Linked DNA regions of Homo sapiens: all the other regions are linked to region 1. Evidence: fine-mapped expression QTL. A gene starts in region 1. Each other region holds a variant in brackets. All regions are shown on one strand. Distances are from middle to middle. Region 1 holds the start of PHKB (phosphorylase kinase regulatory subunit beta). Region 2 overlaps PHKB (phosphorylase kinase regulatory subunit beta). Region 3 has its middle 130 kb from the start of SHCBP1. Region 4 has its middle 14 kb from the start of LINC02133.

What was found. PIP is the estimated chance that this variant, and not a neighbour inherited with it, causes the effect.
Region 2: its variant is fine-mapped to the expression of PHKB in whole blood (TOPMed, PIP 0.92).
Region 3: its variant is fine-mapped to the expression of PHKB in cerebellar hemisphere (GTEx, PIP above 0.99).
Region 4: its variant is fine-mapped to the expression of PHKB in whole blood (INTERVAL, PIP above 0.99).

The regions. Positions count from the first base shown.
Region 1 is chr16:47,456,552-47,464,551 of GRCh38, forward strand. It overlaps PHKB (phosphorylase kinase regulatory subunit beta), which reads left to right and starts at 4,780. Exons shown (of 31, transcript NM_000293.3): 1 at 4,780-4,875. The coding sequence starts at 4,800. It overlaps ITFG1 (integrin alpha FG-GAP repeat containing 1), which reads right to left and starts at 4,512. Exons shown (of 18, transcript NM_030790.5): 1 at 4,287-4,512; 2 at 2,552-2,624. The coding sequence starts at 4,494. RefSeq lists a silencer at 4,421-4,890.
Region 2 is chr16:47,488,287-47,496,286 of GRCh38, forward strand. All of the region lies in intron 1 of PHKB (phosphorylase kinase regulatory subunit beta), which reads left to right. Among named protein-coding and RNA genes, the nearest start is that of PHKB, 31 kb to the left of the region's middle. RefSeq lists enhancers at 3,817-4,339, 4,631-4,700. The variant C/T (reference allele first, on the strand shown) is at 4,559.
Region 3 is chr16:46,484,898-46,492,897 of GRCh38, forward strand. It overlaps the pseudogene ANKRD26P1. Among named protein-coding and RNA genes, the nearest start is that of SHCBP1, 130 kb to the right of the region's middle. The variant TG/T (reference allele first, on the strand shown) is at 4,143.
Region 4 is chr16:47,840,783-47,848,782 of GRCh38, forward strand. No RefSeq gene overlaps it. Among named protein-coding and RNA genes, the nearest start is that of LINC02133, 14 kb to the right of the region's middle. RefSeq lists an enhancer at 7,721-8,000. The variant G/A (reference allele first, on the strand shown) is at 3,701.

The DNA.
Region 1 (8,000 bases):
CGTGGCGTTGTGCACCTGTAGTCCCAGCTACTCAGGAGGCTGAGGCAGGAGAATTGCTAGAACCAGGGAGGTGGAGGTTCCAGTGAGCTGAGCTTGTGCCACTGCACTCCAGCCTGGGAAACAGAGTGAGACTCTGTCTCTAAAAAAAAAAAAAAAAAAAAGTGGGTAGAAAAACTTTTTGGATGTGACAGGACTTATCAGGCATCCTTTCTCAGGAATTTCTGGAAAGACACACCCCCGTGAAGTAAATGAGGAAATTTCTTTTTTTACATGGGGAAATTCCCCACATAGTAAGTCTACAAAAGGCCTGGAGAATGAATCCAGACTGGATAGGAATGTAGAGGATCCAATGGGAAAAACAAAAATGCAGGATAGGTATATGGCAGATATGATGGAATATCTGCAAAGAAATTAAGGGTATGTACATAGAAAACTATGCAATCTATTTTTTAAAAAGCAATCATTTATTCCAGTAGGGCAAGCTGCACAAAAAATGAAATACTGTCCCAGCACTTTGGGAGGCCGAGGCAGGTGGATCACCTGAGGTCGGGAGCTCGAGACCAGCCTGGCCAACATGGTGAAATCCCATCTCTACTAAAAATACAAAAAATTAGCTAGGCATGGTGGCAGGCACCTGTAATCCCAGCTACTTGGGAGACTGAGGTGGGAGAATAGCTTGAACCCGGGAGGCAAAGGTTGCAGTGAGCTGAGATGATGCCAAGGCACTCCAGCCTGGGCAACAGAGTGAGACTCTGTCTCAAGAAAAAAAAAAAAAGAAAAAGAAAAGAAATACTGTACATTACTTGGTTCTGAAGTACATAGACACCACATGGTTAAAAGGTAAACAATGATTACTAATTTAACAAAAAATTATGATTTAATTACACTGGGACAATGTAGATAAATTATGTTAGTTAAAAAACAAGAATTGAATATTTAAAAATGATAATTCAAGAAAATTAGTGTAAAATTTTATTTTAAAATATGGTAATAAACACTAGAAGAATCAGCTACAGGTTTTAAAAGTGGTTGCATCTGAGAGAGAAACAGGGGTGTGGGGGAGAATAAGGGTGAAGAATAGTTATTTTTACTTTGAAAAATATTTTAAATTATAACACAAACAAGAGTTTCTAAATTTTGAAAGTGCATTGCATTAATAAAAAAATTAATTGGGATATTTGTTTTAACTTATCAGAACACATGCCATTTACATCTTTTAAATTTCCTTAATTTCTAATAAAAAAAAAATCACCTCTATGCAGTTAGTTCACTTCTCATATACACTCAACTTCAGTTTCTTCCCCACTCCAAGCATGCTGACATTCACTACCCAAAAACACTTCTCAAGGGAAATAAGTTCCTGTTTATCCATTTATAACTTTCCCCTCAAAGTTCTAGTTCAAGGCCATTTTTCTTTTTAACATGAGTTTGAGTTTACTCAAAATACTGTAGAGTCTGAGAACTAATCAGCCCACACAGGGACTTTTTAAATACAGCTTCCTAAGTAGTCTTTAATCTTCTACAAACCAATTCATTCTGCATATAGTTTACAAGTAAATCAATTTAAAATACTGTTTTCATCATCTCTCCTTTGCACAAGGACCTGATGATTCCCCTCTTCTAATGGGACAGCATTCAAACTCTTTTTTGTATCTGAAGGCTCCCAGTCTGCCCTTCTTATCTCATGTTCTTAGTCCTTAACTCCCCGAAGTGTACCTTCCACTTTTGTCAGGCAGATCTTTCTACCTCCTCTTCATAACATGCTGTTCTTACTTTTATCTCTTATAAATGCTCTGTCCCCAAAATTGAACTTCCAAGTTGAACGTCTTCACCTAACTTTTTATTTATACTAAGGTCAAGCTCAAGTTCCATGACTCTGGAAGCTGCCCCTTTGGCCTGCACTGACCCATCTCTTCTTGCTTGAATTCAGACAGCCACGAATGCTTGCTTCAAATGAATGTAGTTTCAAAACTGTGTTGGGTCACTATCATGGAGGTAGAGGTGTGGGAGTGGTCATTGTTTCATGCAATGCCAACCACAGAAAAGAAAAATAACTATTACTTGAACATTTTAAAAATTCAGATAATTAAACTTGAATTCCTTCCAAGTCAACCTTAAAAACTCACCATCAGTCAATTAAACAAAAAAATTAGAACACTGACTTTTTCCCCACTGCAAAATAGGCCCCTCTTCCACAAAACACAACACATGGCTAATACAATGAGACTACTGTGAGTGACTGCTGCCTCAAGATGAGGCACAGAACGAGACACATTCAAGAAGGGATACGAGGGATACGAGATTGCAAGGAAATAAAGGGTGTTTATATAGAAACAAACCTGGATCCACTCAAATTTATTTCTTTAAAGTCATTTTTAAACTTTGGTATTTTCACTATTTTTCCAAAAAATCACTTGCTACTCATACCTCACAAACAGTGGTTTTGCATCCCAACACTAAGGCTGACTTTAAAGACAACCAATCAGCTACTGCATATCCATTATTATATTAATGACTAAAGTTTTATCAAAATAATCATATTTGTACTTACTTGAAAGATACCTTTACTTTGGGTTTAAAATAGGGTGCATTCTGGTCTGCCAAAAAGACGATTAAGTCATTTCCTAAAGAAAACAAATATATGATATTAGAAAAATGTTTGTTGATAAGATATCTAATCAGTGGTTACAAGAAGGTTTCTGGGCACTGTTCTCAACAAGAAAACTTTTATTCTACTCCAGTTCATCTGCCCTCTCAAGCATAGTCCCACTAGTCCAATGGAGATGCCTAACATTATATCACAAGTTCAATGTTCAAAGTAGCAGAGAAATAGAAAGGATGAACATGGGAAAAAGCAGCTGATCAAGAGAAACTGAAGCCAGTGGATTCTGCGAGGAGTCAGATTGGTTGACTTAAAAGAACCATATAAAGATGCCTTATAACTATACTACATGTCAAGACTTGTCTTCCCCGAATCTAGCAATGCTGTCCCTTGTAAGGCTGTTTGGTTCATTACACAGATGCATCACACCAAGGATGCAGGGACTCCCATTGTAGATATCTGACAAAGACATAATTAAGCATGTGAGCACAAAATGCTGAATCCTCCAAGACCCTCCTCCTATGGGGCCATCCTCCAGAGGGTGACACATTCTTGGAGCTCAATTAGCACTCATTGAGACAGACTTTTGGAATTGTTTAATCAAACACAGGCCATCTTTAAAGTCAAGGCTACTCTCTGTATCCAGTTTGGACACAGCAGCAACAGGTTTGGCAGTACACTGCAAAATGAGGAGTCAAAAAGATTGGGAAAATATTCAGGGTTTGTAAGAGGTTCCTGCATCCCCGCAAGGGCTCCAAGAAGTCTGGTTCAGGATCCTGTCAGGCAAGCTCTGAGTAGCTCTTCCTTCCTTCCTTCACAGCATTGATCTTTAAGCAGCACCTGCTTCTGTAGGTACTCAAGAACCCTAAGACCCCCTAATGCCCACTGTCAGCATCAAGATTTACAAAAAAGTTAGTTTAACGATTGTCAAAGCAAAGAATTTCCAAGAACAAGTTAGCAAAGAAAGTAGACATTTGGAACACTAAGGTGATGACCAAGATGAGGAAGGAGTACACGAAAGAACAGGCAGCTCAAGAGAGAAATTTCTGTAGTTTGAGACTGCTTTCCCAAGGAGGCATTGGGTTTATCAGTGGTCCCTGCAAAATGCTTGTGTGAGCTGTTTAGTGTTTAGGCCCTTGGAAGGGTACATTCGCTTCATAGAAAGTTGTGGCCTTGACAAAGAAAGGGGTGGGCGAATTAGGTAGGTGGGGAGGCAAGAAGAAGCCCCCTATGAGAAGAGATTGTCAGGTTGCACCTTTTCATGTTCATCAACGGGGAAGGAAGACTGAAGCAAAATAGAAAGGAATGAGTGGGCCTTGGGAGCGAACGTTGAGGCAAGCTACAAAGATTCCTAGGAATCAGGAAGCACTTTGGAAAACAGGTGATTCCATGGGGAGGAGGGGGTAAGGTGACTGGGTGAGGGCCGCAGACTTCTTAGGAACAAAACTGAGGTGCTGTCAGGGCTTTTGAGGGTAGGTCAAACTGTAGGGTAGCTGGGTCAGAACCTGGGGTTGGAAAGGGTGGTGCAAAAGGACAAGCTGTTAAGAATGCTAAAGGGAAGGCCACAGGGCTGGGAGAGAAGGACCAGGAAATGCAGAAGGACCGGCCATTGGGCAATGGGTTTGGGGAACACCGGGAGAGGCACACGGACAGCGAACAGAGGGAGGGCCCGGCAAGCACTGACTTTCCCGCAGCACGAAGAGATCCGTCTGCTTGTCGGAGTTGAGGTCCCCGAAAGCCGCAAGGGTGCCCCAGGCCTCGGCCCCAAAGAGCTCGGCCGTGACGTTGTGCAGCGCCCGCGCTGGGACCGGCCCGACTCCCAGTAGTGCAAGCCCTGCGAGGAGCGGCGAGAAGAGGGCCCAGGAGCTCGGGAGCCGGCCCGCCGCCGCCATGGCAGCCCCTCAGCCCCCGCCCGCCGGCCCAACGCCGCGCTTGACGACAGCCGCAAAGCACCGCGTTACCGGCCGAGAGAGTGGCGCGCAGCCCCGGGACGCGTAAGAGCCGCTGCCGGCTCCTTTTTCTCTCTCCCACTAGGGCTGCCCTTCCGACGCTAAAAAAGCAGTGGAGCTAGGGTGAAAGCCGCCCTCACGCTCACTTCCGGCAGGCGCGCCTCCCGACAGTGTCGTGCGGGGGGCGTGGCCCGGCATTGCTGACAGGCGGCCCCGGGGGCGGTGGCCAAGGCGGCGACCGGAGCGCGATGGCGGGGGCGGCGGGACTCACGGCAGAAGTGAGCTGGAAGGTCTTGGAGCGAAGAGCTCGGACCAAGCGCTCAGGTTTGGCTGGCTGGGGCGCCGCCCCCCACCCGAGTACCTTGGGTGGTGCTTCGCCTCAAGCGCCTTGGCGGGAGGCAGGTGGGGGCCCTGGGAATGAACCTGTGCCCCGAGTTCCTCCTTAGAAAGCAGGTGGCGGCCCTGGCCTTGTTTCTAATATCTTCCTCCACCTCTAAAAATTAGGTGGCAGAGCCAGCTCCACTCTGCGTGTGCCCCCGACTCTATTCCGCTTGTGAGCCCCACTCGGAAAGTAGGCAGCGGTCCGGACTTCCCTTAGAGTCTTCTAACTTAAAAATCGGGCGGCGGCACATTCCTGGGAAAGGGAATGTGTCTTCCCTGTGAATGTGTCTTTCCTGTGAATGTTCTCTGCAAAAGTCAGATAGCTTAATCAGACCAAGTCAGATGTAACTACGATCTGGCTGCAGAAAGCCGGCGTCTGGGCTCCTTGCTTTATGTCTTATATCCCTTTTACATTCCCCACAGGTTCTAAGCAGTAGACCTGTCATCTATCTAGCAGAAACTGAAGGAGACTGGGCCTCAGATATTGAAGAGTATAGTTAGGGCCCAGAAAGAAAAGGGCTTCTTAAGTGGCCCCAGGTTGTGTGGTTTCCAAACCCGAAAGCATAGAGGTCAGAAGGTGCCTTGCAGGCAGTTTTAACAGTTCCAAGTGTCCCGAACTGACTTGTTCAAATTGCAACGTCATGACTTGTGGCGTTATTAAAACTTCCTGTATTCCTGGTTGGCTGGATATAATCTTGAACAAAAGGCATGCACTTAAACAGGAAAGGTGAAAGGCGGAATGCAGGTTTTCAGCTAAGGAGCTTCCCTTTTAAAGAATTGATGAAGTGTCATTATTGGGGGTGGGTGTGAAAGGTGTTAGCTAGGAAAATTAACTTTGCACTTGCATTGATATTAAGAAATTATTTTCGGACGGGCGCGGTGGCTCACGCCTGTAATCCCAGCACTTTGGGAGGCCGAGGCGGGCGGATCACCTGAGGTCAGGAGTTCGAGACCAGCCTGGCCAACCTGGTAAAACCCCATCTCTACTAAAAATACAAAAATTACCTGGGCGTGGTGGCGGGCGCCTGTAACCCCAGCTACTCGGGAGTCTGAGGCAGAAGAATTGCTTGAACCTGGGAGGCGGAGGCTGCAGTGAGTGGAGGTCGCACCACTGCACTCCAGCGTGGGCGACAGAGTGAGACTCCGTCTCAAAAAAAAAAAAAATTATTTTCTCACCTAATATGTTCTCCTTACGTTTTGGGCTTTTCCTATTTATGAAGTTCTTAGTTGTCTGTTGTGCACACTGACTTTTTTTTTTTTTTTTTTGGAGAAAGTAAATCTAATTTCTGAAAATCTAATTTCAGAAATCATACACCGAACACTCTGTTTTTTTATACCTTACAAAAAGTTCAGCTTTATATACTTAGGGTTATAGTAAAATTACCATCTATGAAGTATGAGATAATTTTTTCAAAAAGTAGTCCTTAGTACTACTAAGAATCAATAAAGTGACTTGGAATAGTCACATGTATTTGTTTCACACTTTTTCTTAAATTGTTTTTGTGTGATATAGAAATACTGAGTTGGCTACTAACGATGTGGCTATCTGGATATAAAAAGTGTTATTGGATTGGTTATGTCTGAACAAAGAGAATAACTGGAGTTTTCTTACAGGGACCTGAGTACTGCCCCCAACATATATTTTTGCAACATTTCTCTTTAACTTTCATAAGCTCATAGAGTTGATTTTCTTCGTCAGTCTTTGTTTCCTCTGAAATGCATGTCATAACAGTAAGCTTTGAAAACCTTAATTCTCTTTTCTTAGCTGAGAAAAAAAATTCTAGTGTTAACTGTTGTTGAGTGCAGTTATTTAAATCCACTTTTATGTGCAAAGTGCATAGTATCAATGTTGAATGTTCCTGTATGTTTACATCATAGTAGTAAAGAGATACCACTTGAAGTTATTCCTCCAAATTAATAGTTAAATTTGAGGTTTCAGATTCTTGTAAGTATATGAAGTACAGAGGATAAAGTTAATAACTCGAGTTAATAACTTCCTGTATCATTAAAAGCAATCAACTTGATTCTGTTTGTTACTTTTAGAAGAATATATAAATGGAGCTTTGTTAAACACTTGACTAACCTGACTCCAGTATAGAGTCCTCCCCACAGAGTTCTGAGCATTGTTACATAGTAGCATAATTACTTCACTGCACAACAGAGGATACTACTTTTATGTAATGTCTAATAAGTGGATATTATATAGTTTCTATCTCATCCATATGAGCAAGTGTAATTTATCAAAGCAAAGAAAATCACATTTTCAAGTCATAAAAGAGAAAATAAAATTATAATGATCCTCAGTTACTGCCTTTGTTGCATACTGCATCATGTTAATAACTGCTCACACTGCTTTCAATTAATTTAACACTGATTGCTTCTAACCTTTACTAAACAGTTTTAAAATTGCTATAGCTTAGCCTGCGACGCTTATGATTAGAGCCAACAATTTGAAATGGCCTGCTCACCTGATGCAGTCGTCTCTCCGTCTTCCGCTTTCTTAAGGTCTGGTAAGTGTTGTAGACCCCAAAAGGGTCACTTGGTAATTTTAAATACCTTTGTTTCTGAAGGTTGATTTCACTATAAGATATCATTATGTCTTTATTTCTTCTTTGGTGGGCCCAGGCCTGAGTACCCGGCTGGTGTTTTGTTTAACTTTGCATTGTGTTTTGAATGTGGCCTATTGTGTTCTTCTCATGTGGGATGTGAAAAGAACAGAGAGTGGAGTGCCTGCCCCGATATTTGCAAGCAGAGGCAGTTCCTTAGTGTCTGGGAGCTCCCATTGTCAAATGTGCACATAGCATATTTCTTAAATGATTTTTGTCTTCTTGCCACAATGGAAGTAACTTCTACAAATTAGGAAATTTTGGTCAACATCCCACTTATCTGTTCTTCATCAGCTTACTGTGAAGCAGGTTATTAATATACACGTTTTCACAGACAGGAAGCGACTTGCCCCAGGGAATATTTTGAGGCCATGTGCTTTGGCCTTTATCCTGTGGCATCCTGGTGTAAGGGCTGGAACAGATGTTGGCACAATGGCTCTTAGACCGTTGTGTTGATGCACC
Region 2 (8,000 bases), 32 kb after region 1:
GTTTAGTTTTTGCTTATTAATTTGTTTAAATTGCTTACAGATTCTGGATATTAGACCTTTGTTGGATGCAGAGTTTGCAAATTTTTTTCCCATTCTCTAGATTGTCTGTTTGCTCTATCGGTAGTTTCTTTTGCTGTGAAGAAGCTCTTTAGTTTAATTAGGTTCCAATTGTCAATTTTTGTTTTTGTTTTTGTTGCAATTGCATTTGGATTCTTTGTTATAAATCTTTGCCATGGCCTATGTCCAGAATGATATTTCCTAGCTTTTCTTCTAGGGTTTTTATGGTTTTAAGTTTTACATTTAAGTCTTTAATCCACTATGAGCTGATTTTTATACATGGTAAAAGAAAGGGATCCAGTTTCAATCTTCTGCATATGACTAGCCAATTATCCCAGTACCATTTATTGAATAGGGAGTCATTTCCCCAATGCTTGTTTTCTTCAATGTTGTCAAAGATCTGGTGGTTGTAGGTGTGCAGCTTTATTTCTGGTTTCTGTAGCCTGTTCCATTGGTCTATGTGTCTGTTTTTATACTAGTACCATGCTGTTTTGGTTACCGTAGCTGCCTTGTGGTGTGTTTGAAATCAGGTAGTGTGATGCCTCCAGCTTTGTTCTTTTCTTAGGATTGCTTTGGCTATTGCCTCTCTTTTGGTTCCATATGAATTAAAAAAATTTTTTTTTCTATTTCTGTGTAAAATGTCATTGGTAGTTTGATAGGAGTATCATTGAATTTGTAAATTGCTTTGAGTAGTATGGCTGTTTTTTTATTTGTATTTGTATTTTTTTGAGACAGAGTCTTGCTCTGCCGCCCAGGCTGGAGCGCAGTGGTGCAATCTTCACTCACTGTGACCACCTCCCAAGTTCAAGTGATTCTCCCTGCCTCAGCCTCCCGAGTATCTGGGACTACAGGTGCATGCCACCATGGCTGGCTAATTTTTTGTATTTTTAGTAGAGATGGGGTTTCACCATGTTAGCCAGGATGGTCTCGATCTCCTGACCTCGTGAGGAGAACTCCAGTGAGTTTAGAATTTAATGACAAATGTGTGATATGTTTTGAAACATAATTTCTCTTCCTCCAGTACTCATTTTTGCTAAAAAACAAAACGAAACAAATCATGATAGGACTGAGTTGTTTGCAACATAGACTTTAGTCTTATACTTATCCTGACTATTTGCATAAAGTACAGCAAGAATAACTATTTCTACATAGGCTTTTTAGATTGGTTTCGATGGAACTCTGTTCCACAAGGAATCTCAGATAAGACCTTTTAAAGCTGAGCCCAGCCATGGGTTTGTATCCTCAAATACCCTGTGAGTTGGGTAACCCTCTCTTAAGGTCCCAAGATAAACTTGGAGTTCGTAGGCCTGTTAGAAAGTGACATTCTTTACTGACCATGGGTTAGGAGCACTGTACAAGAACTGCGTAGGCAATGGTATGAGGCCAGTTTTTACCATGGGGCTTTTATTAGCTATGCAAGTTGAGCTTGACTCTTTAAAGGGAAGCATACCGTTCCAGTGAAATCTTGGTAAAACAACCAGTTTCTCCAATTGTGTCCTGCTGCAAAAGAAAAATGGATTCTTATTGCACTGATGCAAACATCTATATTGCCATAAGTTAAGAATACTCACAGATAGTTTCCAGGTTCATGAGGAATCAGGCAGAGAGAAACAAACATGCTCCAAATTTTGTTCACAGGAATATACCTTACTCAATTATTAAAGGCTATAAATAGTTTAAAATAAGTTTCCTTCACACTGAAAAACAAAACAAGGATCAGCAATATTTCAAGCAGAAGTCAAAAATAATTGCTTCAGCTTTCTGAGTTCAGTCCATTTAGTTCTTGATTTCTTGATATTCATGAACATTTCAGCTCTTCATGAGTCCTGTACATTTTTTCTTTATTCCAATATTACAATCTACAAAGTTATCAGAAACCTGTATTTGAGAGCACCTGTCAAAGTTCTATCACTTACTATAAACCATCTTTTGAAAAGAATTAGAAGAAGACAACAATTATCTGTGAATAGAAATGTCCAGGGTAGTTACAGTTAGAAACATAATTGACAAAGAAGTTTGGTGATCTCTGTGGTTTATAATAGCTTAACCTTATGTTTGCTAACATATACTTAGACATTAAATTTTAGAAATTCCATACAGTTTTGGAGCAAATATTAGTATTCACCAAAATATAACCTAAAGAAGATTGAACATCATTCTGGCAATCCCATGTAACTAAACATGTCAGATGATCCTGTTTACCTCTTTTCTGGAGGCTCCAGGGGCCCTCTAAAGCCTTCCAAAAGCCAGGTATCAGGAAAGGCAATTATGAGGCTCAAGTTTGATTTTGGGAAGCCTGTTAAATATGTTAGAGGATTAACACACTTGATGTTATGAAATTGATTTCCAGATTACCATAAATTATTTGACTGAGAAATTTTAATGAAGCAAAAACCTTTTATAACCCTTTCCAAATTTTGCCAAAGGGCAGATCAGTGCCCCAAGAGTACCCTGTTGTGCTTTCATTCCAATGCTCAACCCACAGAGAAACCACATAATAACCCCCAGAACCTAGTCAACATGTTCACACAGAAAGCCTCTTCTGCAAGAATCATTTCCACGATCCTTCTGCCACTTGTTTGAACCTTCAGCTTTACCTTATCTAATTCAAAACAATTCTTTAACCCTAGCCAATACTTTACATTTTCCTATCTTCTAATAATCTTTCATTAAAAACACATTTTACTGTTCTTATACACCTAGCATGTAAATCTATTTCCAGTAGTTTCAATTATGTGTTTTAATGGTACCTCCTAGCAATTTGAACTTTAATGTAAATCCTGGCAAGTTGTTTTAATTGTGTGCCAGATACAGCCAGCATAATTGACTCCTTCCAGCATAAGTAAGGGTGTGGTTAATTCTATATGTCTATAAGGGGACAGACATATAGTTCTATATGTTTGTAAGGAAGTATATGTCCCTTACAGACATATAGAACTATGTCTATATGTCAATTGCCTTACCAGTTGTGAAGCAAGCAAGTCAAATAGTTCTTAAAACCCAAAAGGCAGTTTGTAACCTTAAAACATTTAGTGAGCCTAGTATCTAACCTGCATAATTTAGTCCTCCTATTTACATATTGGTGACATCTGCATTTTACTAATAATCTTTAAGGCTGTTGTTATTTCCCAAAGATTAAAGTCACGTGAACTAAAAGGTACCATAGCTTTTATCTTCCCTTTAAAAAATATTTCATCCAAGCACTTTTCTTCCTTTAGGCCAATTACTTAGAGGTCTTTTTATAGACATCACACTCAACACATATATAGCTACACTGACAGGCAGACTAGAAGAAGATTCAGTAGTTGCAAGACCTTTCATTTGCCAGTCTTTATGTATCTCTCATAATGTGAAGTAATTTCTGATACTCCCAAAAGTAAAAAATGCCAGATAACACAATGCAAAACAGAACAGAACCCTAAATTCTGAGAGGGATTTATCCACTTCCAGTTCCTGGGGTTTCATGAGGAAAACAGAGGTTTTTTGCAAAATGGGGTATCTGGCGCCCCGTGTTTTTCCCAAGGAGTCCCAGGCTGTTGGAGCTTGAATATCTGCTTTTAATTAAACTGACTTTTAGCCATAGCACTCTTTAATAAGGTCCTTTTAAAATTTCTTAATACCTGACTTTAGCCAGGCCAAACAGCTGATATTTCTGGCTTTCAAACTTTACTAAAGGCTCAGAGAAAGAAAATCCAAGTCAGTTTGTGGAGGGGCAGGGAATCAAAAAATGGCAAAGGTCCTGCAGATATCAAACTAGAAAGAACTCATTTCCTAAGGCAGGATTGAACTCCTGGCTGCCATTGTAAAATGGTGAGGCTAGAACAAAACATTGCCACGTGGTTGCAGGCCTTGCTCCCAAGGATGTAAAACAGAATGGAGGCCTGCCACAAAGTTTGCTATGGAAAGATGGACAAAGTACACTAGATTGGCTACAGATTAAGACCAGCCTCACAAATCCTTTTTCACAATTAAAACTCTACTGAGAATATAAACAGTGATCCTTATCATTCCTAGCCTAGTTAAAATGTCTTCTAAAAGGAAAAAAAAGCTAATTTAAAAGTCAACTGCTGATCTGGTGGAGAAAAGGAAAGAAAAAACCAGTTTAAAATGCCTAAAGAGGAACCTCTTATTTTTATGCAAATGGATGCCTCCATCAGTGAGAAAGACTTCATTACTGTTCAAGGGAGTGGGACCTTCTGGCTGGGGGAGCGGAAGGCTCTATGGATGCATGGCAGGGAGAGCTGCCTGCTGTTGGGCACCCTTGGTTCACGCACCCCAGCCTTGGCAGGGAGGGGAGGGTGGCGGGAGCTGCTGCTCGCCCTTCCGTCACAAAAAAGAAAGGAAAATGCCATGGAGACTGAGGCTGACCTTCTCAACACCTGGGAGTGACAGGGGTTGGGGCATGGTTTCCCCTGCCCTCAGAAGTCTGAGGATGAAAAGGCTTAAAAATGAGATAAAAATAGATTTGGTTTGCATCTCACTCACCCTTTCTTAAGCCCCA[C/T]GTTGGGTGCTAAACTGTTGTAGGACTTTCTCCTTAGTTCACCTAAAAATGGGGTCCTTGTCACACAACCATGAGAGATTAGGCTTGCAGGCACTTTAAAGGGCAAGAAAAATTTATCGGGCAAAAAGGAAAACAAAGGTAAACAGAGAGTCTCAGCAAAGCCAAAGTCTTGCTAGCTGGCTTCCGCCTCATAGATTGAATCCTAGGTACCACCCTGGAACAGGGGAGATCAGGCTCCTCCCTCTGGCAAACAGTGCGCACTTCCTGAGGCTCCACCCCGTTGCACACTCCTCCCAGTGTGCAGGCCAGTTGGAAGTTCTCTGGGGACCTCTTTATGCTTGCTGTCTCATTCCTGAAATGAGGCCAGTACACCAGGAGCAGGAGGGGGGAAGGGAAGAGCAGTTAGAATAAACAGAAAGAGGAAGAGGAACAATTTCAGCAGCACTTTTCATTTTAAAAGTCACTTTATAAAATTTTACATTTTCCTTTTGCAAAGAAATAACTTTGTCAGAACCTCTTTTAGAAACTTCTAAGTATCATTGAAAATAGCTCTCCTAGTTATTTTATTTTAGAGCTAGCTTTTTAAAATTGAGAGTACAGATAAACTAGTTGAGGTATTTTAAAAGTACACTATTTCGACCGTTGTAATTTGGGGTCGTCTTTAGTTACGTGTGACCAGTTTTCTAAATGTTAGCATGAAGAGGCACCATAAGCATTAAATATAAATCCAGCTGGTGTTTCTAAAGGTGGGTCACCCTTTAAGGACAAAGTCTAGGTTTTAGAGATAGTTGTCCATAATTTTCGTTTTCCTTCCTGAATGACCAGAAACCTAGTGGGACTCATGAGAGCCTTTTATTATTTTGGTCACTCAAGAACATTTTAGATTTATCAATTGAACCAAGCTTCAGAATTTAACTGGTTTTTAAAATTACATGTTTTTCACTTAAGCCTCAAAGATTCACTTCCTCTTTTCAAAGACCAAAGTTTAAACTATAGAAAAGGTTGAAAAACTCCAACTAGTAGTTCAAAATAAAACCTTAACTTCAGAGAAAAATGAAAGTCACAAATCCGAGGTCAACAGATCTCTAGAGAATAACAAATGAAACTCTTGCCTTTTATAGAGCTTCACTTCCAACCTCAACTAGTTAAGAATATGTACAAATTGAATAAAGTCTTAATCCTTAATCAAGCCAGGAGGATTCAGATCCCAACAGGGGCCTTAGCAGAGATTCCTGCTGACTTTGGCAAGGTTGGGTGAAGGAGGACTTATCGTATTGGTACCAAGGTGCTGATTGCTGGTAAAGTGGTGGGGCTCTCTAGAGGTCCACTTCCGATCTCATCTAGGGTACCAAAATGTTAACCTTAAATAACTAGATTCCGAAAATGTGATTCATTATAGAGTATTCAAGCCTAAATCTATGTGGAAGCATAGATAGAAGCTGCCCTGAATATATCTTCTGATTAGCATCAGTTACAGGTGGATTTTAAAGGAAAGAGGCAGCTTCTAAGTTGTGTTTCCAGTAACTTATATTAATATAATAAAAGTTATTGATTAGCTCTATATTGTTCTTTGTATCACAAATTCCAGGAACTGGAAGATAATGGGTAAGGCAGCTAGTCAGGAACAAAAATGCCTGTAAACATGGCCCTTGGGTGTGGGTGCATAGGAAGGAAAGTGTGATTGAAGTCCCTTACTCTTGTCTTCCTGAGCCTGGTAAGTTTTGCATACCTCACCTAGCTCAGTCTGCTCTGAGCTATTTTTCTCCTATCATTGATAAGTTTTATTTTACTTTGTGATGTTTGCGTATAGACATAATGCGAATGGGAAAAGCATGGAAAAGAAAAATTAACATTTTACAATTTCATTTCAATTGGAACATTTAGTAGAATTTTCTGTTATTTTGTAGCTCTTTAATTTGCTTTGGGAATTCATGCTCTATTAATTGCTGTCTCCATTTTTACTGGCATTGATGCTTTCCAGATGTCCTATTTTTGTTTAAAATGTTAACATTGATTACTTTTCCTTTGACTTAGATTTGTGGTATTGTTTACCATAAATTGTGTAGAACATCCTTGTTAATTGTGTAGAACATCCTTGTTTAATTTTATGTAGTTACTTTAGAAACAATACAATGATGATCACTAAAATAATAACATTTATCTAACCAAGCTGTTCTTGACTTATCATGGGCGTTCTTTGAATGTATAATTTAGATGATTTTACTTTTACCCTTTTCTGCTATGCTTTGAACATCTTCTATTTTTCCTCTTACTGAATAGATACTTATTTTCTTGAGAGGTCTGATTTTCCTTTTGTTTATTTATTGTTGCCTCTAACAGAACTCCTTTTTTTTTTTTTTTAAGAAAAATTAGATGACAGAATCACTATAGTCCCTTAGTTCTTAAATATCCTAGCACTTTTAAAAATAAATATTTTTAAATCTAAAATCTTGGTATAAATATCATCAAAACAATCTCTCAAAATCAATTCACCTACCATTGTAATGCAGGTTGATTTAAGTTTGCATATTCTATATCCATATGCTCATGTATCATTTAATTTTAATGGAATTATATACTCAGCTCTTGGTGATTTATGTTTTGTATGTAAAGCAAAATACTACCTCTACTAATAGAGATCTAAATAAAAACAGAAATGTTACCCGCAATTCTTCCACCTCAGCAAAGGTGTCCCCTTTAATTTTTATATATACATATGCACAATTTATAAATTATGATTATTTGTACCTAATTTATTTTCTTTCATAGTGAATGAGCTTCACTGGGAGTGTATAGACTCCTAGAGCTTATTACCTTATGCTCTAGCAGTGGCATATTACTCCTTTCTGATTGCCAGGCTACCCATATGCTTATACCTGCCTGGAGCTAGTTGAATACAGGAAGGCAAGGGCATGACTGGAGGGGGCTGGGTCCTTTCCTTTGAAGCAGGAAAGGAGTACTGATGTTCTGTATGTTGATAGGTCTCTCCGTTCCTCACTATGGACCCATTCCTGTTGGTGCCATTGTGAATACTCTTGTAAGAAAATCTTCTTTTCGCTCAGAGCAAGTCTTATCTACAAATTACCTATCTTTTCAGCAGAAGATAATGAGACTGTTGCCTGAATGTATAGGCCCTTTCTTTACGTTCTTCTTATTGTTACTATCTGCGTAAACATAAAGGCTTCCCAAAACCTTGGCTTTAAACTAGGATGTTGGACACAGCAATTTTATGAGCATAAAGGCTTTAATTTTCTTTAAAAACAGAATCTTAATCTGTGCCAATGTGATTTCTGCCACTAGGTAAATTATAGGTTCATTTTTGTGCTATGTTCTTAGACTATATGGTATACATTACCTGAATCCAGAGATGGATTAATTGTGACCTTGAGTTGTTTTTAATTTCTGAGTGCTTTTAACAAGAATGAGAGACAGTACTTAGTCT
Region 3 (8,000 bases), 970 kb before region 1:
GCATAAACTAAGATCTATCATGCACACAGAAAACAAAAAATCAGGGGTCATTATTCTTATATCAGATTAACACACTTTAAACCAACAACAGTTTTTAAAAATGACAAAGAAGAAGACGATAAAGAATGATACACAATGATAAAAGAACTCAATTCAACAAGAAGGCATAAATATTTTTAAATATATAGGCACCCAACCCTGGAGCATCGGATTTCTAAAACAAGTACTTCTAGATCTATGAAAAGACTTAGTTAGCCACCCAATTATAGTTAAAAATTTCAACACCTCATTGGCAGCATTAGACAAATTGCTGACACAGAAAAGTAACAAAGACATTCTAGAATTAAATTTAACATTTCACCTATTGAACTTAATTGACACTTACAGAATCCTCCACCCAACAATCACAGAATGTACTTTCTTCTCATCGGCACAGGGAACACACTCTGAGATCGACCACATGCTCAGCCATAAAGCAACTCTCAATACATTTTTTAAAAACTGAAAGTATACCAAGCATAATATCTCAGACCCTAGTGGAATAAAAATAGAAATCCATACCAAAAATTTCTCTCAATGTCACATAATTATATGAAAATTAAACAACTTGCTCCTGAATGACTTTTGGGTAAACAACAAAATAAAGACAGATATTAAAAACTCTTGAAAATAAATAAAAACAGAGACAGAACACGCCAAAATTTCTGGGATACAGCAAAACCAGTATTAAGAAAAAAGATTATAGCACTAAATACAGACATCAAGAAGCCAGAAAGGTCTCAAACTAACAAAATCGCACCTACTAGAACTAGCAAAACAAAAACCAAATAACCTCAAAGCTAGCAGAAGTAAAGAAATAACTAAAACCAGAGCAGAACTGAATAAATTTGCGACACAAAAATCCTTACAAGTAATCAACAAAACCAAAAGTTTGTCCTTTGAAAGGATAAATGAGATCGATAGCTAGCTAGCTACATTAACAAAGAAAAAATAGAGAAGATTCAAATAAACACAATCAGAAATGGCAAAGATGGCATTACAATGGATCCCACAGAAATACAAAATATCATCAAAGACTATTATGAACACCTCTATGCACAGAAACTAAGAAATCTAGAGGAAATGGATAAATTCCCAGAAATACAAAACCTCCCAAGATTGAACCAAGACGAAATTAAAATCCTTAACAGACAATAACAAGTTCTGAAATGGAATCAGTAATTTAGAAACCTAGTAACCAAAGAAAAAGCCCTGAACCTATTGGATTCAGAGCCAAATTCTACCAGACATACAAAGAAGATCTGTTACCAATCCTACTGAAACTATTCCAAAGTATCGAGTTTGAGAGACTCCTCCCTAACTCATTCTATGAATACAGCATCATCTTGATATTAAAAGCTGAAAGAGATGCAGTGAAAAAAGAAAACTGCAGGACAATATCTCTGAAGAACATAGACACAAAAATTCTCAACAAAACATTAACAAACCAAATCTTGCAACACATCAAAAATTCACTTTTTTTTTTTTTTTTTTTTTTTTGAGACGGAGTCTCGCTCTGTGGCCCAGGCTGGAGTGCAGTGGCGTGATCTCAGCTCACTGTAAGCTCCACCTCCCGGATTCAAGCCATTCTCCTGCCTCAGCCTCCCGAGTAGCTGGGACTACAGGTGTCCACCACCATGCCCAGCTAATTTTTTTGTATTTTTAGTAGAGACGGGGTTTCACTGTGTTAGCCAGGATGGTCTCGATCTCCTGACCTCGTGATCCACCCACCTCGGCCTCCCAAAGTGCTGGGATTACAGGCAAGAGCCACCGTGCCTGACCCAAAATTCACTTTTTTACAATCTGACAGGCTTTATTTCTGGGATGCAAAGTTGGTTCAACATATACAAAGTAATAAATGTGATTCACCACATAAACAGAATTCTTAAAAACCACATGATCGTCTCAACAGATGCAGGAAAAACTTTCAGTAGACTCGCAATATTCCTTCATGATCAAAACATTCAACAAATTAGGCATCAAAGTAACATACCTGAAAATAATGACAGCCACCTATGACAAACACACAGCCAACATCATACTCGATGGGCTAACCTTGGAACCATTTTCCTTCAGAACTGGAACAAGAAAAAGATGCCCACTCTCTCCATTCCTATTCAACATAGTACTAGAAGTCCTAGCCAGGGCAATCAGGCAAGAGAAAGGAATTAAAGGCATCCAAGTAAGAACTGAAGAAGTCAAACTATCTCTCTTTTCAGATGATATGATTGTACACCTAGACAGCCCTAAAGACTGTCAAAACGCTCCTAGATCTGACAGCAATTTCAGTAAAGTTTCTAGTTACAAAATCAACGTGGAAATATTAGCAGCATTTCAATACACCAATAGTGTTTAAGGTGAAAGCCAAATCAAGAACACAATCCCATTTATAAATAGCCACAAAAAAAAAAATACCGGGAAATGCATCTGACCAAATAAATGAAAGATTTCTACAAGAAGAACTATACACAATGCCAAAAGAAATCAGAAATTAAACAAACAAATGAAAAAAATCCATGCTCATGGATTGGAAGAATGAGTATCATCAAAATGCTTATACTGCCCAATGCAATCTACAAATTCAATCCACACTATTCCTATCAAGCTACCAACACCATTTTTTCACAGCGTTAGGAAAAATGACTCTAAAACTCATAGAACCAAAAAAGAGCCACACTAGCCAACCAATCCTGAGGAAAAAAAAGCTGGAGGCATCAGTCTACCTGACTTCAAATTATATTACAAGGATACAGTAACCACAACACACGGTTTTGGTATAAAAGCAAATACAAAGACCAACAGAAAGAATAGAGAACCCAGAAATTAATCCACATATTTACAGCCATCTTATTTTTGATAAAATGTCAAGAACATCCATGGGGGAAAGAACATTCTCATCAACAAATAAGGCTGGGAACACTGGATATCTGTAGGCAGAAGAATGAAACTAGATCCTTATAGTTCTCCATATACAGAAATCTACTGTAAATGGATTAAAGAAAATTTAAGAACCAAAATTATAAAACTACTAGAAGAGAACATAGCAGAAATGCTTCAGTACCTTGGTCTAGGCAAAGCTGTGATGACTAAAACATCAAAAACACAGGCGAAAACTGACCAATGAGACTATATTAAAATTTAAGTTTCTTCATAGCAAAGGGAACAACCAACAGAGTGAAGAGACAATCTGTAGAATGGAAGAAAATGTTTGCAATTTATTCATCTGACAAAGGTCTAATATTCAGCTTATATAAAGAGCTCAAACAACCCAACAGCAAAAACAAAATTAATAATCTGATTAAAAAGTGGGCAAAGGATCTGAATAGACATTTTTCAAAAGAAGATGTACAAATGGCCAACAAATATATGAAAAATACTCAACATCAGTAATTATCAGGAAATGAAATAAATCTGCAATGAGATATCATCTCACTACAGTTAGAATGGCTACTATCAAAAAGACAGAAAGTAAAAAATGCTGGTGAGGTTGCAGAAAAAGGAAACTCTTATGCACTGTTGGAGGGAATGTAAATTAGTATAGCCATTAAGGAAAACAGTATGGAGGTTTCTTAAAAACTAAAAATAGAACTATAAAACAATCCAACAATCCCACTACTGAGTATTTATCAAAAAGAAAGAAAATAAATGTATCAAAGAAATACCAGCACTGCCATTTTTATTGTATCACTATTTATAATTACTAAGATATGGAATCCACCTAAATGTTTATCAACAGATGAATGCATAAAGAAAATGTGGTATCTGTACACAATGGAAGACTATTCAGCCATAAAATAGAATAAAATTATATCATTCTCAGCCACATAGATGACCTTAGAGGACATTATGTTAAGTAGAATAAGTCAGGCACAGAAGAACAAATGCTGTATGTTCTCACTCATGTGGGAGCTAAATTTTTTTTAAAAATGAGTTCGTGGTAGTAGAGAAAAGAACTGTGGACATTAGAGTCTGGGAAATGAAGGGGAGTGGGGGATGGGGTGAGGTTGGTTAATGGAAAAGAAATTATCACTAGATAGAATGAACTCTAGTGTTCTGTGGCATTGTAGGGTGAATATGATTAACTATGATTTATTGTATTTTTT[TG/T]AAAGCTAGAAGAGAGGATTATAAATGTTCACAAAAAAAAGAATGGTAAATGGTTGAAGTGCTTGATATAATAATTAACCTGATTTGACGATTATACGTTGTTTACATGTATCAAAATATTACTGTGTATCCTATAAATATGTACAAATATACATGACCACAGAATATAAAAGAAAGCCAGGCATGGCGTAACATGCCTGTAGTCACAGCAATTTGGGAGGCTGAAGCAGAAGGATCCCTTGAGCTCAGGAGTTTAAGGCCAGCCTGAGTAACACAGTGAGATCCATTTCTAATATACATAAATAGATAAATAATAAAAATAGAAGAAAAAAATTTATCCTATAAAGAAGTAGACTGTGGGCCAACCCTACTGACTTGCCTCTAATGAAGAAATGTGGTAAAAGTGATACCACGTGTCTTCCAACATTAAGTTAGAAAAGGCCCTCTACCTCACACTGCTTGTCCTTGGAACTTAGACCCCACGTTGTGAGGAAGCTCAGGCCACAAAGATAGCCTAAGAGTTCCAATGAAGGTATTTCAGCTGCCTGCCCCAACTAAAGTTTCAGTCAATGGCCATCATGAACAACCAGACAGTTAGGGAACATGCCTTCATAGGATTCCAGTCCTCCAACCTCTGATTTATCCCAAGTGAAGCTCAGGGGAATGGAGACAAGCTGTCCTGGCCAAAGTTTTCCCCACCCACAGATGGCTGAACTAAATAAATGTTGTTTTCAGCAACTCAACTTTGGGTAATTTGTTAGGAAAAAATAAACAGAAAATTTGATTTAAACAAAGAGACATCAAGAAAAAATAACTTATGGGAGCCAAGATGGCCAAATAGGAACAGCTCCAGTCTACAGCTCCCAGCGTGAGCAACACAGAAGACGGGTGATTTCTGCATTTCCAGCTGAGGTACCAGGTTCATCTCATTGGGGAGTGCCAGACAGTGGGTGCAGGACAGTGGGTGCAGTGCACCGTGCGGGAGCCAAAGCAGGGCGAGGCATCGTCTCACCTGGGAAGCGCAAGGGGTCAGGGAATTCCCTTTCCTAGTCAAAGAAAAGGGTGACAGATGGCACCTGGAAAAACGGGTCACTCCCACCCTAATACTGCACTTTTCCAATGGGCTTAACAAACGGCACACCAGGAGATTATATCCCGCACATGGCTCGGAGGGTCCTACGCCCATGGAGCCTCGCTCATTGCTAGCACAGCAGTCTGAGATCAAACTGCAAGGTGGCAGCAAGGCTGGCGGAGGGGCGCCCGCCATTGCTGAGGCTTGAGTAGGTAAACAAAGCACCTGGGAAGCTCGAACTGGGTGGAGCCCACCACAGCTCAAGGAGGCCTGCCTGCCTCTGTAGGCTCCATATCTGGGGGCAGGGCACAGACCAACAAAAGGCAGCAGTAACCTCTGCAGACTTAAATGTCCCTGTCTGACAGCTTTGAAGAGAGTAGTGGTTCTCCCAGCACGCAGCTTGAGATCTGAGAACAGGCAGACTGCCTCCTCCAGTGGGTCCCAGACCCCCAAGTAGTCTAACTGGGAGGCACCCCCCAGTAGGGGCGGACTGACACCTCACACGGCCAGGTACTCCTCTGAGTCAAAACTTCCAAAGGAACGATCAGGCAGCAGCATTTGCGGTTCACCAATATCTGCTGTTCTGCAGCCACCGCTGCTGATACCCAGGCAAACAGGGTCTGGAATGGACCTCGAGCAAACTCCAACAGACCTGCAGCTGAGGGTCCTGACTTTTAGAAGGAAAACTTAACAAACAGTAAGCACATCCACACCAAAAACCCATCTGTACATCACCATCATCAAAGACTGAAGGCAGATAAAGCCACAAAGATGGGGGAAAAAACAGAGCAGAAAAACTGGAAACTCTAAAAATCAGAGCACCTCTCCTCCTCCAAAGGAATGCAGCTCCTCATCAGCAATGGAACAAAGCTGGACGGAAAACGACTTTGACGAGTTGAAAGAAGAAGGCTTCAGAAGATCAAACTACTCCGAGCTAAAGGAGGAAGTTTGAACCAATGGCAAAGAAGTTAAAAACCTTGAAAAAAATTAGATGAATGGCTAACTAGAATAACCAATGCAGAGAAGTCCTTAAAGGAGCTGATGGAGCTGAAAACCATGGCATGAGAACTACATGATGAATGCACAAGCCTCAGGAGCTGATGCGATCAACTGGAAGAAAGGGTATCAGCGATGGAAGATGAAATGAATGAAATGAAGTGAGAAGATACGTTTAGAGAAAAAAGAATAAAAACAAATGAACAAAGCCTCCAAGAAATATGGGACTATGTGAAAAGACCAAATCTACGTCTGATTGGTGTACCTGAAAGTGACAGGGAGAAAAGAACCAAGTTTGAAAACACTCTGCAGGATATTATCCAGGAGAACTTCTCCAATGTAACAAGGCAGGGCAACATTCAAATTCAGGAAATACAGAGAATGCCACAAAGATACTCCTCGAGAAGAGCAACTCCAAGACACATAATTGTCAGATTCACCAAAGTTGAAATGAAGGAAAAAATATTAAGGGCAGCCAGAGAGAAAGGTGGGGTTACCCACAAAGAGAAGCCCAACAGACTAACAGCTGATCTCTCAGCAGAAACTCTACAAGCCAGAAGAGAGTGGGGCCAATATTCAACATTCTTAAAGAAAAGAATTTTCAACCCAGAATTTCATATCCAGCCAAACTAAGCTTCATAAGTGAAGGAGAAATAAAACACTTTACAGACAAGCAAATGCTGAGAGATTTTGTCACCACCAGGCCTGCCCTAAAAGAGCTCCTGAAGCAAGCACTAAACATGGAAAGGAACAACCAGTACCAGCCACTGCAAAAACATGCCAAATTGTAAAGACCATTGAGGCTAGCAAGAAACTGCATCAACTAATGAGCAAAATAACCAGCTAACATCATAATGACAGGACCAAATTCACACATAACAATACTAACCTTAAATGTAAATGGGCTAAATGATCCAATTAAAAGACACAGACTGGCAAATTGGATAAAGAGTCCAGACCCATCAGTGTGCTGTATTCAGGAAACCCATCTCACATACAGAGACACACATAGGCTCAACATAAAGGGATGGAGGAAGATCTACCAAGCAAATGGAAAACAAACAAAGGCAGGGGTTGCAATCCTAGTCTTGGATAAAACAGACTTTAAACCAACAAAGATCAAAAGAGACAAAGAAGGCCATTACATAATGGTAAAGGGATCAATTCAACAAGAAGAGCTAACTATCCTAAATATACATGCACCCAATACAGGAGCACCCAGATTCATAAAGCAAGTCCTTAGTGATCTACAAAGAGACTTAGACTCCCACACAATAATAATTGGAGACTTTAATACCCCATTGTCAACATTAGACAGATCAACAAGACAGAAAGTTAACAAGGATATCCAGGAATTGAACTCAGCTCTGCACCAAGCAGACCTAAGAGACTCTACAGAACTCTCCACCCTAAATCAACAGAATATACATTCTTTTCAGCACCACACCACACCTATTCCAAAATTGACCACATAGTTGGAAGTAAAGCACTCCTCAGCAAATGTAAAAGAACAGAAATTATAACAAACTGTCTCTCAGACCACAGTGCAATCAAACTAGAACTCCGGATTAAGAAACTCACTCAAAACCGCTCAACTACATGGAAACTGAACAACCTGCTCCTGAATGACTACCAGGTACATAATGAAATGAAGACAGAAATAAAGATGTTCTTTGAAACTAACGAGAACAAAGACACAACACACCAGAATCTCTGGGACACATTCAAAGCAGTGTGTGGAGGGAAATTTATAGCACTAAATGCCCACAAGAGAAAGCAGGAAAGATCT
Region 4 (8,000 bases), 380 kb after region 1:
CTCCAGGAGCTTGCCACAAGTGCCAGAAATATGGCCACTGGGCCAAGGAATGCCCACAGCCCGGGATTCCTCCTAAGCTGTGTCCCATCTGTGTGGGACCCCACTGGAAATTAGACTGTCCAACTCACCCAGCAGCCACTCCTAGAGCCCTTGGAACTCTGGCCCAAGGCTCTCCGACTGACTCCTTTCCAGATCTTCTCAGCTTAGCTGCTGAAGACTGACACTGCCTGATCGCCTCGGAAGCCTACAGGACCATTAAAGACACCGAGCTTTAGGTAACTCTTACAGTGGAGGGTAAGTCCTTCCCCTTCTTAATCAATATGGAGGCTACCCACTCCACATTACCTTCTTTTCAAGGGCCTGTTTCCCTTGCTTCCATAACTGTTGTGGGTATTGATGGCCAGGCTTCTAAACCCCTTAAAACTCCCCAACTCTAGTGCCAACTTGGACAATATTCTTTTATGCACTCCTTTTCAGTTATCCCAACCTGTCCAGTTCCCTTATTAGGTCTAGGCATTTTAACTAAATTAGCTGCTTCCCTGACTATTCCAAGGCTACAGCCACACCTCATTGCCGCCCTTTTCCCCAGTTCAAAGCCTCCTTCACATCCTTCCCTTGTATCTCCCCACCTTAATCCACAAGTATAGTACAACTCTACTCTCTCCTTGGTGACTGATCATACACCCCTTACCATCCCATTAAAACCAAATCACCCTTACCCCACTCAATGCCAATATTCCATCCCACAGCATGCTTTAAAAGGATTAAAGCCTGTTATCCATCACCTGTTACAGTATGGCCTTTTAAAGCCTATAAACTCTCCTTACAATTCCCCCATTTTACCTGTTCAAAAACCAGACAAGCCTTACAGCTTAGTTCAGGATCTGTGCCTTATCAACCAAATTGTTTTGCCTATCTACCCTGTAGTGTCAAACCCATATACTCTCCTATCCTCAATACCTCCCTCCACAACCCATTATTCTGTTCTGGATCTCAAACATGCTTTCTTTACTATTCCTTTGCACCCTTTATCCCAGCCTTTCTTCACTTTCACTTGGACTGACCCTGACACCCATCAGGCTCAGCAAATTACCTGGGCTGTACTGCCTCAAGGCTTCACAGACAGCCCCCATTACTTCAGTCAAGCCCAGATTTCTTCCTCATCTGTTACCTATCTCGGCATAATTCTCATGAAAACACAAGTGCTCTCCTGCTGATCATGTCCAGCTAATCTCCCAAACCCAAATCCCTTCTACAAAACAACTCCTTTCCTCCCTAGGCATGGTTAGGTACTTCTGCCTAGGTACCTAGGTACCTAGGATACCTAGTTTTACCATCCTGACTAAACCATTATATAAACTCACAAAAGCAAACCTAGCTGACCCCACAGAGCCTAAATCCTAGCTGACCCCACAGAGCCTAAATCCTTTCCCCACTCCCCTTTCTGTTCCTTAAAAACAGCCCTAAAAGCTGCTCCCACACTAGATCTCCCTAACTCATCCCAACCTTTTTCATTACACACAGCCGAAGTGCAGGGCTGTGTGGTTGCAATTCTTACACAAGGACCAGGACCACGCCCTATAGCCTTTCTGTCCAAACAACTTGACCTTACTCTTTTAGCCTAGCCCTCATGTCTGCGTGCAGTGGCTGCCACTGTTTTAATACTTTTAGAGACCCTCAAAATCACAAACTATGCTCAACTCACTCTGTACATTTCTCATAACTTCCAAAATCTATTTTCTTCCTCCCACCTGATGCATATACTTTCTGCTCCCCGGCTCCTTCAGCTATACTCACTCTTTGTTAAGTCTCCCACAATTACCATTGTTCCGGACTTCAATCCAGCCTCCCACATTATTCCTGATACCACACCTGACCCCCACGACTGTATCTTTCTGATCCACCTGACATTCACTCCATTTCCCCATATTTCCTTCTTTCCTGTTCCTCACCCTGAACACACTTGGTTTATTGATGGCAGTTCCACTAGGCCTAATCGCCACTCACCAGCAAAGGCAGGCTATGCTATAGTATCTTCCACACCTATCATTGAGGCTACCACTCTGCCCCCTCCACTACCTCTCAGCAAGCTGAACTATTGCCTTAACTCAGGCCCTCACTCTTGCAAAGGGACTACACATCAATATTTATACTGACTCTAAATATGTCTTCCATGTCCTGCACCACCATGCTCTTATATGGGCTGAAAGAGGTTTCCTGTCTATGCAAGGGTCCTCCATCATTAATGCCTCTTTAATAAAAATGCTTCTCAAAACTGCTTTACTTCCAAAGGAAGCTGGAGTCATTTGTTGCAAAGGCCATCAAAAGGCATCAGATTCCATGGCTCAGGACAATGCTTATGCTGATAAGTTAGCTAAAAAAGCAGCTAGCATTCCAACTTCTATCACTCACGGCAGTTTTCCTCCTTCTCATCTGGCCACTCCCACCTACTCCCCGACTAAAACTTCCACCTATCAATCTCTTCCCACACAAGGCAAATAGTTCTTAGACCATGGAAAATATCTCCTTCCAGCCTCACAGGCCCATTCTATCCTGTCATCATTTCATAACCTCTTCCATGTAGGTTACAAGCTGCTAGCCCACCTCTTAGAAGCTCTCATTTCCTTTCCATCGTGGAAATCTATCCTTAAGGAAATCACTTCTCAGTGTTCCATCTGCTATTCTACTACTCCTCAGGGATTGTTCAGGCACCCCCCCCACCCTTCCCTACACATCAAACTCAGGGATTTGCCCCTGCTCAGGACTGGCAAATTGACTTTACTCACATGCCTCGAGTCAGGAAACTAAAATACCTCTTGGTCTGGGTAGACACTTTCACTGGATGGGTAGAGGCCTTTCCCACAGGGTCTGAGAAGGCCACTGCAGTCATTTCTTCCCATCTGTCAGATATAATTCCTCGGTTTGGCCTTCCTACCTCTATACAGTCTGATAACGGACCAGCCTTTATTAGTCAACTCACCCAAGCAGTTTCTCAGGCTCTTGGTACTCAGTGAACTAATGGTCTTTTAAAAACACACCTCACCAAGCTCAGCCACCAACTTAAAAAGGACTGGACAATACTCTTAACACTTTCCCTTCTGAGAATTTGGGCCTGTCCTTGGAATGCTACAGGGTACAGCCCATTTGAGCTCCTGTGTAGACCCTCCTTTTTCTTAGGGCCCAGTCTCATTCCAGACACCAGGTCAATTTGGACTGTGCCCCAAAAAACTTGTCATCTCTACTATCTTCTGTCTAGTCATACTCCTATTCACCATTCTCAACTACTCATAAATGCCCTGCCCTTGTTTACACTGCCAGTTTACACTGTTTCTCCAAGCCATCACAGCTGATATCTCCTGGTGCTATCCCCAAACCACCACTCTCAACTCTTAAATAAATAATCTTTGCTGGCAGGGCTATGCTGAACTTCCTTAGGCACTCTCTAATTGGATGTCCTAGGTCCTCCCAATTCTTAGTCCTTTAATACCTGTTTTTCTCCTTCTCTTATTCCGTTTAGTTTTTCAATTCATACAAAACCATATCCAGGCCATCACCAATAATTCTATATGACAAATGCTCCTTCCAACAACCCCACAATATCACCCCTTACCACAAAATCTTCCTTCAGCTTAATCTCTCCCACTCTAGGTTCCCATCCCACCCCTAATCCCACTCAAAGCAGCTCTGAGAAACATCGCCC[G/A]TTATCTCTCCATACCATCCCCCCAAATTTTTGCTGCCCCAACACTTTACCACTGTTTCATTTTATTTTTCTTATTAATATAAGAAGACACTGATAATGGATTAATATCCATAATATATAGTAAACTCCTAAAACTCAACACCAAAAAAGGAAACAACATAATTCAGCAATGTTCAAAGGACTTGAATATACATTGAATCTCCAAAGATTTACAGATGGCCAATAAGCACATGAAACGATGCCCAATATCACTGAATTACTGATCATTAGGGAACCGCAAAGAAAAACTACCATGTGATACCACCTCCCACCGATTAGAATGGCTGCTATTAAAAAAAAAAAAAAAAGAAACCACAGAAAACAAGTGTTAGTGAGGATATGGAGAAATAGGAACCCTTGTGCACTGCTGCTGGGAATGTAAAATGGCACAGCTGCTATGGAAAACAGTATGAAACTTCCTCAAGAAAATTAAAAATAGAATTACCATATGATTCAGCAATTCCACTTCTGGATATATATCCACAAGAATTGAAAGCAAGGTCTTGAAGAGATCTTTGCACACCCATGTTCATAGCAGCATGATTCCCAATAGCCCAAAGGTGGAAGCAATCCCAATGTCCATTGACAGATGAATGGATACACACATATATACATATTTATTAATTTGTTAGTGCCACCATAACCAAATATCACAAACTGGGTGGCTTAAACAACAGAAATTTATTCTCTTACAGCTGCGGATGCTACAAGTCCAAGATCAAGGTGTGGCAGGGTTGGGTTATCTGAGGCCTTTCTCCGTGGCTGGCAGGGGACTGCCTTCCTGCCATGTCCTTCCATTCATCCCTTCTCTGTGTAAGTGCCTCCCTGGTGTCTCTTCCTCTTCCTATAGAGACAGTAGTCCTATTAGGTTAGGGCTCTACACTTACGACTTCATGTAACCCTAATTACCTCTTTAAAGGCCCTATTTCCAAATATAGTTATATTGGGGGTTAACTAAGGCTTCTACACTTGGGTAAGGGCACAATTCAATCTATAACAACTTGTAATAGAATATCATTCAGCCTTAAGAGGAAGGAAGTCTGTTACCTGCAAAAATATGGATTAACCTTGAGGACATTATCACCAAGTCTACACCAAAGACTCCCATCATGTGATTTTTAAAAACTGTTGTTCCCTCTCCTGCCAGCCAGAGCACCCACCCCTTCTGCCTGCATCTTCCTGTCACATACCTCTGAGCCTTTGTACACTGCTATTTTCTCTCCTGGAATGTCTTCTCTTCGCTCCCCTCATCAGAGCAAATCTTGTTCACCCTTCTAAGCCCAGCCAAAGTGCTGTCTTTGAAGTTCCTATTCCTGAAGTAGAGCTCATGTCTCTTCTGTGTTCCTCCAGTTCTTTGTACAACATGCTAGATCACAACTCTCTCTCTTTCAGCCTCCTCCACCAAACCGTAAGCTCTCAAAGGCACAGAGTCTCTCCTCTCTCCTCATTCATGCCTTGTACAATGACCATACATGGTAGATACCAATGTTTGTTGAGTGAATGCAGGCGCAGGTAGGCAAACAATGGTAAGGGAATTAAGACTAGCATGGCTCAATCATATTTGGTTACCTTGTCCATTCAAAGTGTGGTGGCAAAGTGTGGTACGTGTATCAATAGTGGCCCACAGGATGACTTTAGGTAGCACCTGGATGAACCCATTTTTACATAGTTATGTAACCGCCCAATGTGTTAATTTTGCCTGCTGGTCAGGCAGAGCTGACTTATCAAGATGGGGGAATTGCATTAGAGTAAGAGTTTAATTCAAGAAGAGCCAGCTGAATGGGAGACTGGAATTTTATTACTCAAATCAGTCTCCCTGAACATGTGGAGACTAGGGTTTTTCAAGGATAGTTTGGCAGGCCAGAGAATGGGTGCTGTTGATTGGTTGAGGATGCCATCATAGGGGTGTGGAAAGTGATCCTCCTGCATGCTCAGTCTGCTTCTGAGTGGGACCACCGGACCCCTTGGTAGGTCCAGGTGGAGCCATCTGTCATCAGAAATGAAAAAACCTGAAAAGACATCTTAAGAGGCTAATCTTATGTTCTACAAGAGTGATTTATCTGCAGGAATAATTGGGAAAGTTGCAAATCTTGTGAACCCCAGCATAATGACTGGTAATCCTTTACATGTTAGCAGAATTCAGGCTCATGTCATCCTCCTGACCTGGTGGTCTTTCATTAGCCTTACAAAAGTGGTAGAGTTTCGGGGAAGGGATATTACCATTTGAAGTATAAACTAAATGTCTCCCAGAGTTAACTTGGACTAGGCCCAGGAATAATTAGGGCAGTTTGGAGGTTAAAGGCAAGATGGAAGTGAGTTAGATCAGATCTCATTCATTGTCATAATTTTCTCACTGTTATAATTTTTCCAAAGGTGGTTTCAGTTATAAGCTCACATTAACGTGTTCTAGAAAAGATATAACTACATCTGAAACCTGCAATTTCATGGATCTCATTGCTTCTTGAAGGAAATAAAGATATTTTACTCCAAAATCTATTTATTTGACATATTTTGAAATGGCTGCCACAGAGCCAACAGACAGAAGTGGCTTGCAAAGCTGTCTTTTGTGGGGGAAATTTGCATCTGTAGAGAATCTCCATGGATGCAGCCAGGCCTTCCGTTTCTAGGCCTTTCCTGGATCTATGGGAGATTGAGAGTCTGACCCTTTAAATGTCAGAAAAGGGACATTTACCATATGTTCTCTTTAGGGCTGCCACCCAAGAGGCTTACTCTACATAATGAGACCCCCTTTGGTAGCCAGGCCCCTTCCTCTCCCCTTCTCATAACCTGCCTTGGCACTAAACTTGATCTACCAACCTAACCTGTTTTGGGCCATGCTCTGAGCATGCATTATTTCTATAACCTCGAGATGCTATGCAAGCTTTGGAACCTAACCAGGGAATTACATCATCATTCTCAAGGTTCCTGTGTATACATATTACACACATTTGTCTGCCTTTTGTGAGTTGATTTTTCAGCAGAACTTCAGAGGGTCAAGGGGAAAGCTCTTCCTTGGCCCTCAGTTCTCATGAGGCTAAGTAAGAAGAAGTCAATTTAACTAAAACCGAGTAAGTAATGCTACAGGTGGCTCACAGGCATGGCAAAAATCTGAAATGTTGGAAGAAGGAGAAACATGGGGCTAGTCTTTAGTCTCATTTTTAGGCAGAAGTATAGACTGATGTTCCCAATGACATTTGGAGAATGGTATTTTCCATGATTCATTCTTCTTTTCAATCTTCACTAGCAGGAAGCAGTGGCGTGAGCTGGGGAGGGGAAGTAAAGGCGTCCTTAATCGTGTCTCCACCTGCCTTCCAAGATGCTGCCTTCGATTTTGTTTTGAGTAAGGGATGATAAGCCATCCTCTTAGAGAGCATCAGCTCATTCCTTTCATAGCCAAGCTCATCAGCATTTCTGGTGATTGTGTATTGTGGTATCTGCAAACAAGTGATGTATATTCTGCAGGCTTTTCAACCAGGATATTTGTAAGATACATGTTAAAAAGATGGGTCTTGGTTTGCTTCCAAGTCACAAAAATGTGAATCCTCTTTAAAAATGGTATTTGCACCTAAAGCTGACCTATGGAATGGAGTGGAGGTGGGCAGGTGGTAACCAGGAGGTGGCAAGGGGAGGAAGAGCCAGATGGGGGGAGGTGGTAGTAGTATTTTTTATATTACAGGAAGATGTTTTGCCTTACAAAAGGATTAATCACAGGGTTCCTTTTAAGCAGAAAGTTTCATGCATTTTAAAAGATGATTTGATTTACAAGAAACTTTTCAGGAACACAGCTGCTGGGCAAAGCAAGCTATTTACACTGACTTGAAATCCATTTTATGAGCCAGGAGTCTGGGGTGTCAGGGGGAGTGATAAAACTCCTTTAGGTTTTAATTGACAAGTGATATTGACTAGCACAGTTAGGAGCCCAGGTATTGGGCCTGGTCCAGCGTGTTCCCATAGTAAATATGCGTGAATGTGCTGAGTGCTTGAGTATTGATTCATTTATTTACCTGTTTGGCTGTTGCTGTGAAAGGCTTTGTATTTTGCAGCTTTGGAGCCAAGCTGCCTTTCACAGAAGGCTGTGTTAGAATGTACTAGATTGTTCAGCATGAATCATCTGGCTCGATGGCCTATGGGGAGGGAGCTTGGCCTCGTACATCACTGCAAGACAGAGACTCAAAGACATCTGTGGAGGGGAGGCACACAGGGGGTTAGGGAGCCACAGGAATGAGGAGATGAGATCTTTTTCTCAAAAACAAGCCTTAGG